3 separate regions of the Homo sapiens genome follow, and regions 1 and 2 are each reported to be linked to region 3. Evidence: microRNA targets listed by miRTarBase, many of them from high-throughput screens and not tested one by one. Region 3 holds a microRNA gene; each other region holds the end of a gene's coding sequence.
The links. The annotated mature microRNA hsa-miR-6821-5p reads GUGCGUGGUGGCUCGAGGCGGGG and lies in region 3 at 2,772-2,794, opposite strand. An mRNA with a match to its seed (bases 2 to 7 or 8) in the 3' UTR can be bound and repressed. Matches are read on the target gene's strand: a 7mer-m8 pairs with bases 2 to 8, a 7mer-A1 pairs with bases 2 to 7 and ends in A, and an 8mer does both.

Region 1 (4,124 bases), not on the chromosome of region 3:
CACAGCCCTGTAGGAAAGAAGACTTTCCTTAAGAGTTAAGGGGAAGGATATTAAAAACAGACTAAAAGGAAACAAACAAAACAAAAAACAACCAAAAACCATAATCATAGTTTTAAAAACATGTTACAGAGGAAGTAGCACCACCCCCTCCCCCAATAAAACCTTAAATTTTTGCTGTAAAAAGAAAAAAAAAACAACTCCCTTTCTCCAGAAAGGAAATGAAATGGCTTGTCAAATGGATTCTATTCATGGGGCAAACATGGAGATGCGACCCTTCCCTTGATTACTCATCTCATGCTTTATAAGAATCTAAACACAAATAGGAAACACGATGATAATTTTAACATCCTATTAGTATATGTAATTGTAAGGATTATTAAAGAAGATACTATAAACCAATAATTCTACCAATGCTCCTTTTAATAAATAAATATCACTTTTTAAATTAAAGGGAAAAGAGAATACCCATTCAATAACCTATTTATATATATGTGCCACTCATTTTAAATCTGCATATTTATTTCAAAAAATGAGCAAGTGTGTTCATCTATATCGTCTCACGAAATTAACACTGACCTTACAACATATTTCATTTGTGGACAAAGACACAGTAAATGTGAGGAAACTACAGAATTGCTATGACTGGAGCTAAATGAATAGCTCTGAAGTCAGTGTCCCATATTTGCATATAGATATTCAGACCAGGCTTGAGGCCAGGCGTGGTGGCTCACACCTGTAATCCCAGCACTTTGGGAGGCTGAGGCGGGCGGATCACAAAGTCAGGTGAGACCAGCCTGGCCAACATGGTGAAACCCGGTCTCTACTAAAAAAAAAATACAAAAATTAGCTGGGTGTGGTGGCGCAAACCTGTAATCCCAGCTACTCAAGAGGCTGAGGCAGGAGAATCCCTTGAACCCAGGAGGCAGAGGTTGCAGTGAGCCGAGATCGCGCCACTGCACTCCAGCCTGGGCGACAGAGTAAGACTCCGTCTCAAAAAAAAAAAAAAGATATTCAGGCCAGGCTTATGTATCAAATTTTGGTATTTCTGAGATGGATATTTAATGTCCATCTGGTATAATCAGTTTTAACATAATGCTTTTTTTAAAAAACTGCTATAGTAGGCGGGGTGTGGTGGCTCAGGCCTATAATCATGCCTGTAATCCCAGCACTTCGGGAGCCTGAGGCGGGTGGATCACTTAAGCTCTAGGAGTTCAAGACAGGCCCGGGCAACATGGCAAAACCCCATCTCTACAAAAAAATACAAAAATTAGCCGAGCATGATGGCATACAGCTGTAGTTCCAGCAACTCAGGAGGCTGAAGAGACAGAGGTTACAGTGAGCCGAGATTGTCCCACTGCACTCCAGCCTAGGTAATAGAGCCAGACTCCGTCTCCAAACAAAAAACAAACACCCCTGCTATAGTAGCCTGCTTTTAGAACTTCTCAATTGACTTTTTATAGATCGGCTTTTTATTTTGACTTTTTATAGATTTATTTTTATTATCATGGTAGGGTGGGATAGAAAAAATATCTAACATACTGGCTTAAATTTCCATGTTTTAAAGCTTGATTTAAAAGTTACTCCTTTCCTATTAACTGAATTGTTAAAGGTTAGAAACATGAACTTTTAAAAAGAAGCGTTTTTTTTAAACTGGTAAAATTAAGATTTCTTTAGAGTAATTACTAACAGAGTTAAATGTGTATCATCAAAAACATTTTATAATTACCAAAATATTCTGATCACACAAAGCTTTTACAAGACACATATTTACCTCAACTCTTCACAGTATCTAAACAATGCCCCACAGAGTTAAGTAATAAATTTCTAGCTATCTTACATACCACAAACAAATGCAGCCAGTGAAATGCAATTCTAATCACCTAGAAAATGTTCACCACACACAGGACATTCAGTATTCCAATTACAGAATGGACTTTAAATTTATGGGTACATTTTTATCGCCACCTCAAGAGTACTCCACCTTCACTCACCCCTACTCTATACACAGCTTTGTCATTTAAACTAGGATTTAACAAAACTTATTAAAATAATATTAATTTAATAAATACTAACTTATAAAGTCTCAAAATATTTTCAACCAATGTGTTTCAGGGCTGATTACATAATTTTGAAAACCACAAAACATATATTAAGTGGTTTAGGAGTAGCATAACTTTATTTTTATTTTATTTTTATTTTTTGAGGTGGAGTGTCACCCTGTCACCCAGGCTGGAGTGCAGTGATGCCATCTCAGCTCACTGCAACCTCCGCCTCCCAGGTTCAAGTGATTCTCCTGCCTCAGCCTCCCAAGTAGCTGGGATTACAGGTGTGCGCCACCACACCCAGCTAATTATTGTATTTGTACTGGAGACAGGGTTTCACCATGTTAGCCAGGCTGGTCTCGAACTCCTGACATCAAGTGATCCACGTGCCTCGGCCTCCCAAAGTGCTGGGATTACAGGCGTGAGCCACCATGCCCGGCCAGGAGTAGCATAACTTTAAAAAAATACAATAAAAGTTTCATAAGCAGCTAACAACAGAAAAAAATAATTATCTCTATTACAACTTACTTTACTATGAAATCAACATAGTTTTTATTTGTAGAGGAATATGGTCTAACTGGATTACCCAATAGAAGAAATTCAGAAAATAATATTTTATTTTTAAAATAGAAAAACAAAATAAAAAAGTGTTTTAAAGGCAAAGTATTTAAAAGATATTTTTCTTGCTTAGCTGTATTTTCTGGAAAATGGAGACTCTTCTTAACTGGGAGACATAAAGTAATTCCCACCAAAATTTAGAACTCAAAGAAAAGCATCCATAACACTTCAGAGTGAATTTTTAAAAATATACACGCAGGCAAAGATAACTGAGCAGTATTTAGCTTCTTAATTTTCCGCAACAGTAGATCCTTTATATTTACGTACAATTCAATGTTTCAAGAGAACATGAAACCAGAACTTAAGGTGTATTTGATTTGAACTCAAACTGGCAAAAAAAAGTTAGGAAAGGTTCAGATGAAACATTTTCAACTTGTTAAAAAACATGTATACTCGCAAAGACTGTTAAATTATAACATTTTCTACAAAACATTCATAAGATCAGTCATCTCATACTTAAAATGCAACAAATGTTAGACAATTAGAATGTGTTCAAACAGGCTGGGTGGGTGTTAGGACGGAATCATTCTTTAGATGTACAGTCCAAACATTCATATATAACAGCGCAACATAGGACAATCTGATCTGCTTCTTTCTATGTGCAAAACAGGACACAGTTTTTTTTTTTCTATTTTGAAATTCTAGTTACCTAAATATACAGTAGTTGGATAAATAGCTAATCGATTTACACATACATCTAAACTGTAACTCTCTATAGTATGAACTGTTCCCCCAACTTCCCTGCACAGTACAATTGAAGAGTAGTAGTACAACAATTTGAACAATCACCAGTTGTACAATTTTAATGTTATATTAATATATGTAGACTAAAAGTTCTTAAGCAAATTATTATTTCCAGTCTTATTCATTGATCTACAACTTCCATTAATTGAAATTATAGAGAAGTCTTCACTGTTTTAATTAAAGATTTTGTCCAGGCATGAGAATATCACTAATTTTTATTGTGACTTTAAGTCTGTAACATTTACTGCAGTAAAGAGTCAATTACAGTTTCAGGCTTTGCAGAACGCTTTCTGTTTGGAGAAGAAAAAAAGCAATCATGAATGCTTTCCTAAAAGACTGAAATGCAAACATTTAACATTATATAGAAACTATGGGGTGGCCTGTATAGTCTGGAAACAAGCCAAAATTTGACACGTTTGACCATGGTAAGTGTTCAATTAATGCTCGCCTTTTCAGGCTACGGGAAGCTAACTTAAAGTAAATGCAAGAGGATGGCAGCCCACCCCATTATGCCAGATAGTGAAGGATAGGACAGGTGATAATTTCCAAGACTAGACTAGGTCATGTGGCCAGGCCAAGTGAGCTGCATGCTTGCCAGATTTGAACTTCCTGATTATCTCTTCTGAGGTACTCAAAAGGTGCAAGTGGATTCAGAGGAAATCAGAAACAAATCATCTCAGGCAATACCTGATGCATATGTAGGGACTTATGGAAATGCTA
Region 2 (4,154 bases), not on the chromosome of region 3:
AGGAAGGCAAAGTATCAGTGGGAACACAGTGGGAAGGCCCACAGCGGGGGCAAGAGTCTTCCAGCTGTGGGCAAGGGTATCCCTGCGGCAGGTCCAGAGCACTGAGGGTGGGGCTTGGCACGACGCCATTTGCCAGGATTCCTGTGTCAGGGGTGAACCAGAAACCCAGGTGTCAAAGGAATCCCACCTTCTAGTCCTTGCTGTCCTCACAGAGTGTCTAGGGTTCACTTTCAGCCTTCCCTTCTGCTCACAATCCCCTCTCCCACGGTCTGTGTGGCCCTGCCTCCAGCCTGCTTTGTTGGAGCCCAGGCAGCCTTCTTCATTATGTCCTCCTAGGAATTAAACCTAGAGACCCCTCAACCTTTGGCATGTGATATACTTTCCCATGGTCAGATGGTCAGATCATCAAGCTGCTGCCCCACCCAAAATTGTGTCTTGCCCACCCTCTGTGTTTCTGTCCATCAGACCACCCATCACATAGGCAACCCCTGGAGAGTGACCCTGGTTTAAAGCCCGACTTTGCCAAACCGCTGTGGATGCATTAATTTGGAAAGGTCCCTGTTCACCTCAGGGCCCACTTGCAAAGCAGAGACAGTCCCCGAGACTCATTCAGCCTTTGCCTTTCTCCTGTTGGCCAGGGACAGAGAGGGCTCAACTTGACCCAGAGCTAAGCCTCTCAGGTCGTGAATGCCCAGGCGATAAATGAAATTCACCTCATCTTATGTCTATGGTGAGATTTGGCAGGGGTCTTGGGGAGACTTAGCAACCTCATTTCTCCCTGTCCTCATACAGGACAAGCCCTGCCCCTAATCCAGAGGCCAGTTGGCCCCATCTCATACTCTGTTTTGCTCACAGTATACCTGATGCCCTCCCTCCTGACCTGTGATTGGGATTGAGCTGAAGATAGTCACTGACATGATTCAAAGGATTAGCACTTGGTACAGGTAGGATGGTGGAGATGTGGTTGGGGACATGGATGGTTGAGGTGAAATGGAACAGAAGAGTGCAGGTTCTTGTCCAAGCTCCATACCCAGGAGATGACCCTTACCTCCGCTGCCACTCAAGTCCTCACATGTCCTGAGCGTCTACTATATAGCAGCCATGATAGATTCTCAGGTTACAAAAGTAATGTCCTCAAGTAAGCGCATCAATTTACTGACATACACCCAATCATAAAACAATGTGATAATTTTTCTGTGGTCAGAGTTTCTGAGCTACGAGTGGGGGTAGTTAATTCTATCCAGGAAGAATGGTGACTTCTTAGAGGAGGTGACAGTTAAACTGGACTTGGATAGCTGTCTGGAATTCGGTCAGGTAAGAAAGAAAATTCCAGGCAGAGATGAGCATGAGCAAAAAATTTGGCAGCAATGATGCACGGTGATTCAGAGATCAAAAAGTTCAGTGTGGATGCCTCTAGACATTTTCTTATCTGTGTCTGATAGATTTTGATATTTTGTATTATCATTTTCATTCATTTCAAAATACTTTCTAGTTTTCCTTGTACTTTTTAATTTGATATATAGTTATTTGGAAGCATATTATTTGATATCCAAACATTTGAGGATTTTTCCAGATAGCTTCCTGCTGTTGATTTCTAGTTTATTTCCATTGTGCTTGGACAAGATGCTTCGCATGATTTTAACCCTTTACATATGTTGAGATTTATTTATTTATTTATTTATTGAGATGGAATCTCACTCTGTCACCCAGGCTGGAGTGCAATGGCGCAATATCAGCTCACTGCAAACTCCGCCTCCTGAGTTCAAGCGATTCTCCTGTCTCAGCCTCCCGAGTAGCTGGGATTACAGGCCCATGCCACCACACCCGGCTAATTTTTGTATTTTTAGTAGAGACAGGGTTTCGCCATGTTGGCCAGGCTGGTCTCGAACTCCTGACCTCAAATGATCCACCCAACTTGGCCTCCCAAAGTGCTGGGATTACAGGAGTGAGCTATCACGCCCAGATGAGATTTATTTTATGATCCAAAAATGGCCCTTCTTGGTGAATGTCCCTGTGTATTTGAAAAGACACTCCCTGTCAACCCCTTTGCTCTGTCATTTAGCTTTGATCAGCTTTTTCTCTCTTCTGTCACTTCAGCAGAAACAATGCCCAGAAATGCCAGAGACAACAAAATAGGAATGTGTCATGGGCACACAAAGCTCTTTTTCCCTGGGTGCTGCTCTTCCCCGTGACAGAGAAATCCATGCGACACAGTGGGGAGGCCCTCCCCAAAGGGTGGCAGATATATTTTTTTCCCCTTGAATTGTAATACACCTTTCCCCAGGCCCACTCTGCCTCCCACTTCTGTTCAGCTCAGCTGTGGGCACTGACCTCCACCGGCGCTTGATCCCTGCCTGCTCCTGCCCAGACAGGAAGCCCTTCAGCAGCCGACTCGGTTACCAGGATGAGGCTAGAGGCCAGGAACTCCCAGGTGTCTATGGAGGTCCCACCTCCTTTAAATCCCTACTGTTCAGACCCAGCTTCTAAAACTGTTCTTTTGCCTCCCTTCCTACTCACCAATCCCCTTCACTATTGTCAATGGCACTGAAGTCCCAGCCTGCTTGGTTGGGGCAGTTAAGTCCTTCTCAGTCACCTTCCACCAGGGATTAAGGTGGGACCCCTTTGCCTGCAGCTCTGTGGGTGGGACCCCTTCCTATCTCAGCATATTCACTCCCTGGGTTCCTGCTGCCATCACACCACCCACCACACGAGCCCCTTCTGGACCAGTGGCCCTTATCTGACTCAAGCCATATCTTGCCAAGCCTGTTGTGACACCGATCTTGGCAAACTCACTTTTCATGTCAGGGCCCCTGCAAAACAGACACATATCTGAGTCATGGTATTCGTTTAAGCAATGAAAAGGGTAGAATCATTTCTTACATCAGAAACATTGATCCTCAGTGAGTCAGATGGAGTAGCCTATTTTTCTCATTAGAGGGAATCCTAACTTTGAACTCCACAGAGAGAGCCCCAGGAACTGTGACTTGAACCCTAGAGCTCTACTTAACTTTTCCAAATTGCTGTACTTGAAAATGTTGAGGTCTGCCTGGGTCAATTTAGAGAAGACACTATGAGGACAAAGACAGCAATGGAAGAAAGAAATGAATTCTTCATGTCAGAGCAGTGGCGGAGAAACAGGACCAAAGAGCAGAAGATGTCTGGCAATGTGTCTGGCATATAATAGTTCTCTCAGCCAGGTGTGTTGGCTCCCCCTGTAATCCCAGCGCTTTGGGAGGCCGAGGCGGGAGCATCACCTGAGGTCGGGAGTTCAAGACGAGCCTGACCAACATGGAGAAACCCCATCTCTACTAAAAATGTAGGATGTAGTTCGGCACTGTAATGTTTAGAGGGTGGTGAAAGGATTTCTTATACCACATCTTGTATGTTATCTGGGAGTAAATGCTGCAGCCACAAGCGCCACCAGCAAGTCTTCTCAGGGTGAACGGGAAAAGGGGATGGGACCTGCTGAGCTAAATCACGGTAAACGCAGACAGCAAACAAACTTTCCGTCAAAGAGCTGGATGAAACCTGGGCCGGATGGCAAGGAGACAACACCCCAGGCAGGCGTTCCAGATCTTTGACCTTGCCCCTCCTCGAGAGGAGATGATTGCTTCATCCCTCCTCTCACTGCACATTGTGCTGCCAGCCCTGCTGTGTAGTGTGGGGGCTCAAGACTAAGGCAGTGCACCATTTCTGTGGAGAGAGATGGATCAGGGAGCGGGGGCTTGGATGAGACCCATGATTCACCTCTCTTGAGTCCTTACCAGACTAAGACGTCCTCAAGGGCCAGAGACCAGCCTGCCACTCACCATTTTGCCACCAGACACAGATGAGAACAATTCCCATTAAAACTAACAGGATGAATGCCCCCAGGATGATCCATCTATCTGGTAGACTAGAAGAAGACCAGTGGATATCTGAAGCATTTACTGGTGACACTAAAAAAAAAAAAAAAAAGAAAAAAAAGCACAAGCCCTGTCACATAAAAAAAAAAAGCATAAAAATATGCTTTCCTTAGCCCCTGCTTTCCCCAGGAACACATGGTGCCCCACATAATCACTGGCTCATGTGACAGCCACTCTACCAGGCCCTGGGCCATGAAGATGAATAGGGGTTGTGCCTTGTCCTTATGGAGCTCAGATTTCTACTGAGAG
Region 3 (4,154 bases):
TCCCCAGCCAGCCCTCAGCAGCAGTGTGTGGGGCACAGCAGTGGGAAGGACCAGAGTCCTATTCTGACATCTGCCCAAGGTTCCTGCCTCTCTGGCCTTCAGTTTCCCAAAAGCAATCTGCGTGGAGGGCCTTTGCCTGGCTGAAGCCGGGGCTGGGGATGCCCATGGCTGGGGGCTGGGGAATGCCCATGGCAGTTGGCCCAGGAGCAGGTGGGCCGCAATGGCTGCTGCCCGAGGGTCCCATTTTGGCAGTGGGGGGTGGGGTAATGGGAAAAGCCTCACTGGACCAGACTGGACTCAGGGCACGCTGGTTGGGCCAGGTCTATGGGAACCGGTGGCTTGTCCTTCCCGGCACCTCCTCATCTCCCCTGCTGGCCTGAGGCTGTAGGGTGAGATGAGGGCCCCGAGAGACCTGCCTAACTGAGCAGCTGCCCTCCAGGTGCTCCTGGATCTCCACAGCAGAGGCCACAAACACCCACTGATGTCCTGAACAGTCACAACCTGAGGCGGGAGCCCCCCACCCGAGCCCTCTCTGCCTGCTCTCCAGGGGAAGGGTGACTTTCGTCTCCTCCTGTTTCTCTTTCCCAAACTTCCCGCCTCTGCCACAGCCTCTGGCCTCGGGCCTGGGACAGTCTTCTGTCCAGTATGGTGCTGCCTGCCCCGGGCTGTTTATCAGGGACTCTTATTCGGAGGGGCAGATGGGAGGCAGGGGGCAGACAGGGCTCCAGGAGCCAGAGAGCCGAGTAGGTGCGCTTGGCAGACTGGGTGATGCCCCAGGTGCAGGTCCACTGCCAACATGGGGCACCCCACAGCCCAGCACAGGGTGGGCAGTTGAGCAGAAGGCCCCTGGGGTGGGGGTGGGGGAGCAGTCTCACTGGGACCCTCCACCCAGGCCTCCTCTACCCACCAGGAACATTGTGGCCAGGCCCATTGACACACCCGAACCTGGTTCATACCCCACTCTCTCACCACACACCCGCCAGGCCAGGGTCTAACTATAACTGACTGAACACCCCGATACCCTCCACCAAACCCCACCCTCATGTCCTCTGCACGTCCTTGGCACTGCCCGGAACACACTCCCACCCCATGTGCCTGGCAAACTCCTCCCTGTCCTTCAAAACCCCCAGCCACCCTCTGAGGCAGCATGGACTCCCTCCCCCACCCCCCCGCACGTCTCTGTTTCCACCAAGCCAGGATGCAAGTATGGCCATTTCCACTGGCAAGGCCTCCCTGGGTGGGGGCTGCAGAGATCCTCCTGGGACCACCGAGGAATGACCTCCTGACTAGTGTGGGTTGCTGCATCCTCAGGGCCTGGCTCCCTGCCTCCACCTCCCAGAGGCACCCCAGGAGGCAGCTGCTCTTCTCCCTGGGTGCAGCACGGGGTAGTGCGGTGGGCCACAAGCCACATGAAGTAGCCTGTGGCACTGGGGAGGCTGGCACCCAGCTGGGCCTCCCCCGTTTCCCCCGTGGGCAAAACTACCAGCCCCACGGGAAACTTGTCAGGTCACCCAGCAGCCAAAGCCCTTCCTCAGAGCCCCTCTCTTCCCCCAGGATGCCCAGCCCCATAAATACAGGATTATCCACTATGTACAAAAACATTTTAATTGAAATACCTGTATAAAAAAATATGATCTCCAGACATCTCACTTTTGAACTGAAAGAACCCCCATCTGCGATGCCTGCACACACCGCATTCACACAAACACAGGTACTGAATAAATTAAACGCTCAGGCTCTGGCCCCACCCCAGCTTTCAGAGCCCACAAGCAGACTGTACAAAGTCAATAATTTAAAACCCAAACCCTGGGCACAGTGCCTGGAAGTGTCAGGGTCACCCACTCCCCTTAAGTTAGCCACTATACATGTTCATCTTCTGACAGGCGGGGCCGGGACAGACGCCAGGCACAGGAATCAGGGCCTGGGGTCCCTGGACCACAGCCACCCCCTCCCCTGCCTCCCCACTGTCCCCTGGGGCTTGGGAGAGGCAGACTGCTCAGAGGAAATAACCTCAACAAATAAATTAAACAATAAATAGCCCCGGTGGGCCGAGGGCACCTCCAGGGGGTCACACCATAAATAACAGAGTTGGCGGCGGGTACGGCTCGCGTGGGCGGGCGGGCGCGGAGGCCAGGACTTGCATTGTGTGTGCAGGACGTGCCCAGACGCACACCGCAGGACTGAGGGCGGGAGGTGGGCTTGGGACCCTGCGCCGGCGGAAAGAGCTCCGGGTGGGCAGGCAGATGGGAAGGCCGCCTCCGGACACAGCAGCACAGAGGGGCGTCTGGGGTTCAAGTATCCACCCAGGGCAGGCGGGACCTCGACCGGAGCGTCTTTGGACAGACAGAGCTTGAGAAAACCAAGTCCCGCGGGACCAGCGTTCAAAAGGCACTCAAAGCGAAGGTCACCAGGGGTCAGAGGTCACTGCTTCCGCAGGAGGAGACGGCCCACGCAGGAGAAAGTCAGGGTCTGGGGGCGTCCCAGGTCTGGCCAAGGCAGGTGGTCCCCTAGCTCCCAGTCAGGTGCAGCTCCTCACAAGCTCTCGCTGCTGGACGTGGTGCTGGCCACGTCATCAGGGTCGAGGGTGCACAGCCGCAGGTCACAGCTCTCCGGGACGCCCCCGTCAGCCCCCAGCATCCAGGGATGGGCCGCAATCTGATCCAGCGACGGCCGCTCTGAGGGCCGCAGGGACAGGCACCACCGGATCAGCTGCTGGCACTCTGTGCGGAGCGGAGAGGTCAGGGAGGGCCCAAGCAGGGCGAGGCCCCCACCCCCGCCTCGAGCCACCACGCACCTGGAGAGACCCTCCTCCGGAAGAGCAGGCGGCCTCGGAGGATCTCCTCGTCCTGCTCGAAGGGGATGTCCCCACACACCATATCGTAGAGAAGCACGCCCAGCGACCACACGGTGGCCGAGCGCCCGTGGTAGCGGTGGTAGCGGATCCACTCCGGGGGGCTGTACACTCGGGTGCCTAAGGGGACACAGGGCTTAGCACGCCCACCACAGAGGCAGAGCCGCTCAACAGACGGCGAGGTCCCTGCTGGTTAACTCCCTGGCCTCAGTAACAGGAAGCAGAGCCAGGCCTCAAAATCCTGCTCGTCATCACCCTGGAAAAACCCCGGCAGGCGATGGGGGGGCTGGGGGAGGGGCCGGCCGTCCCCCTCCGCCGGCCGCGGGGGAGGAGCAGGTCACATGAGTAAGAGCTCGGCTTTCACAACAAACAGATGCGCTGTGAGGCTACCTGGGTGGGGGGGGGACAGCGCGGGTCCCTTACCGCCCGGCGCGCCTGCCTGCGGGAACGGGGGGAGGGGAGAGAGGGAGGGAGGAGGGAGGGGCGGGCGGGGAGCCCCGGCTTCCCCAAGCTCCGCAATGCGGGGATTTCTGCCGCCGCGCCCCCGCGCTCCGCACGCACGCAGCTCCCGCCCCCACGCAGGGGAGGCCCCGCCACTCCAACCGCGCCGCGGGGGCCTCCAGGCTCCCGGCGCAGACCCAGCCCGGCTGCGCCCTGCGTCACGCACGGAGACTCCTCCGCTACCGCCCCCAGCCGGGGGTCTCTCGGGCCGGAAGGATGTCACGCGCCTCCCACACCGGGGCAAGAGGCCCCGTACCCCCCAACGCGATGGAGGAAGCAATATTGAGCGCGCCCCTAGCCCCCACCCAGCACGATCCCGCTCTTGATCCCTCGCTCAGCCCTCCCCAGGGTAGCGCGTGGGCCTCTGCTCCCCACGAGAGCAGACCCAGGGCGCGCGGCCGCCCAACAGTCATCAGCCCCTCCATGTGCCGCCCCTGCAGGCGTTAACCCGCCGGCAAGGCCCCCGGAACGTTCCCTGCCCCGCGCCCGCGCTCACCGTCGAAGTCGGTGTAGACCGTGTCCTTGAGCAGCGCACCCGAACCGAAGTCGATGAGCTTGAGCTCTCCGGAGCGCAGGTCCACAAGCAGATTTTCGTCCTTAATGTCGCGGTGCACGACCCCGCAGCTGTGGCAGTGGCGCACGGCGGCCAGCACCTGCGCGAAGAAGCGGCGCGCCAGCGGCTCGTCCAGGGCGCCGCGCTCCGTGATAAAGTCGAAGAGGTCCTGCGCCGGCTCGGGCCGCTCCAGCACCAGCAGGAAGCCGTCGGGCCGCTCGAACCAGTCCAGCAGGCGGATGACGCCGC

Region 1: miRTarBase lists KIF3A as a target of hsa-miR-6821-5p. The part of its 3' UTR that is shown has no 7-base or 8-base seed match.
Region 2: miRTarBase lists RAET1E as a target of hsa-miR-6821-5p. The part of its 3' UTR that is shown has no 7-base or 8-base seed match.

The regions. Positions count from the first base shown.
Region 1 is chr5:132,692,989-132,697,112 of GRCh38, forward strand. It overlaps KIF3A (kinesin family member 3A), which reads right to left. Exons shown (of 19, transcript NM_001300791.2): 19 at 1-3,694. The coding sequence ends at 3,646. Among named protein-coding and RNA genes, the nearest start is that of IL4, 21 kb to the left of the region's middle.
Region 2 is chr6:149,884,730-149,888,883 of GRCh38, forward strand. RAET1E (retinoic acid early transcript 1E) reads right to left here. Exons shown (of 6, transcript NM_001394057.1): 6 at 1-3,938. The coding sequence ends at 3,769. It overlaps RAET1E-LRP11 (RAET1E-LRP11 readthrough), which reads right to left. Exons shown (of 15, transcript NR_182438.1): 5 at 3,810-3,938. All of the region lies in intron 1 of RAET1E-AS1 (RAET1E antisense RNA 1), which reads left to right. Among named protein-coding and RNA genes, the nearest start is that of RAET1E-LRP11, 9.3 kb to the right of the region's middle.
Region 3 is chr22:49,961,506-49,965,659 of GRCh38, reverse strand. It overlaps MIR6821 (microRNA 6821), which reads right to left and starts at 2,794; the gene lies at 2,721-2,794. It overlaps PIM3 (Pim-3 proto-oncogene, serine/threonine kinase), which reads right to left. Exons shown (of 6, transcript NM_001001852.4): 4 at 3,849-4,154; 5 at 2,795-2,971; 6 at 1,588-2,720. The coding sequence ends at 2,533. RefSeq lists an enhancer at 1-452 and silencers at 3,026-3,545, 3,676-3,725.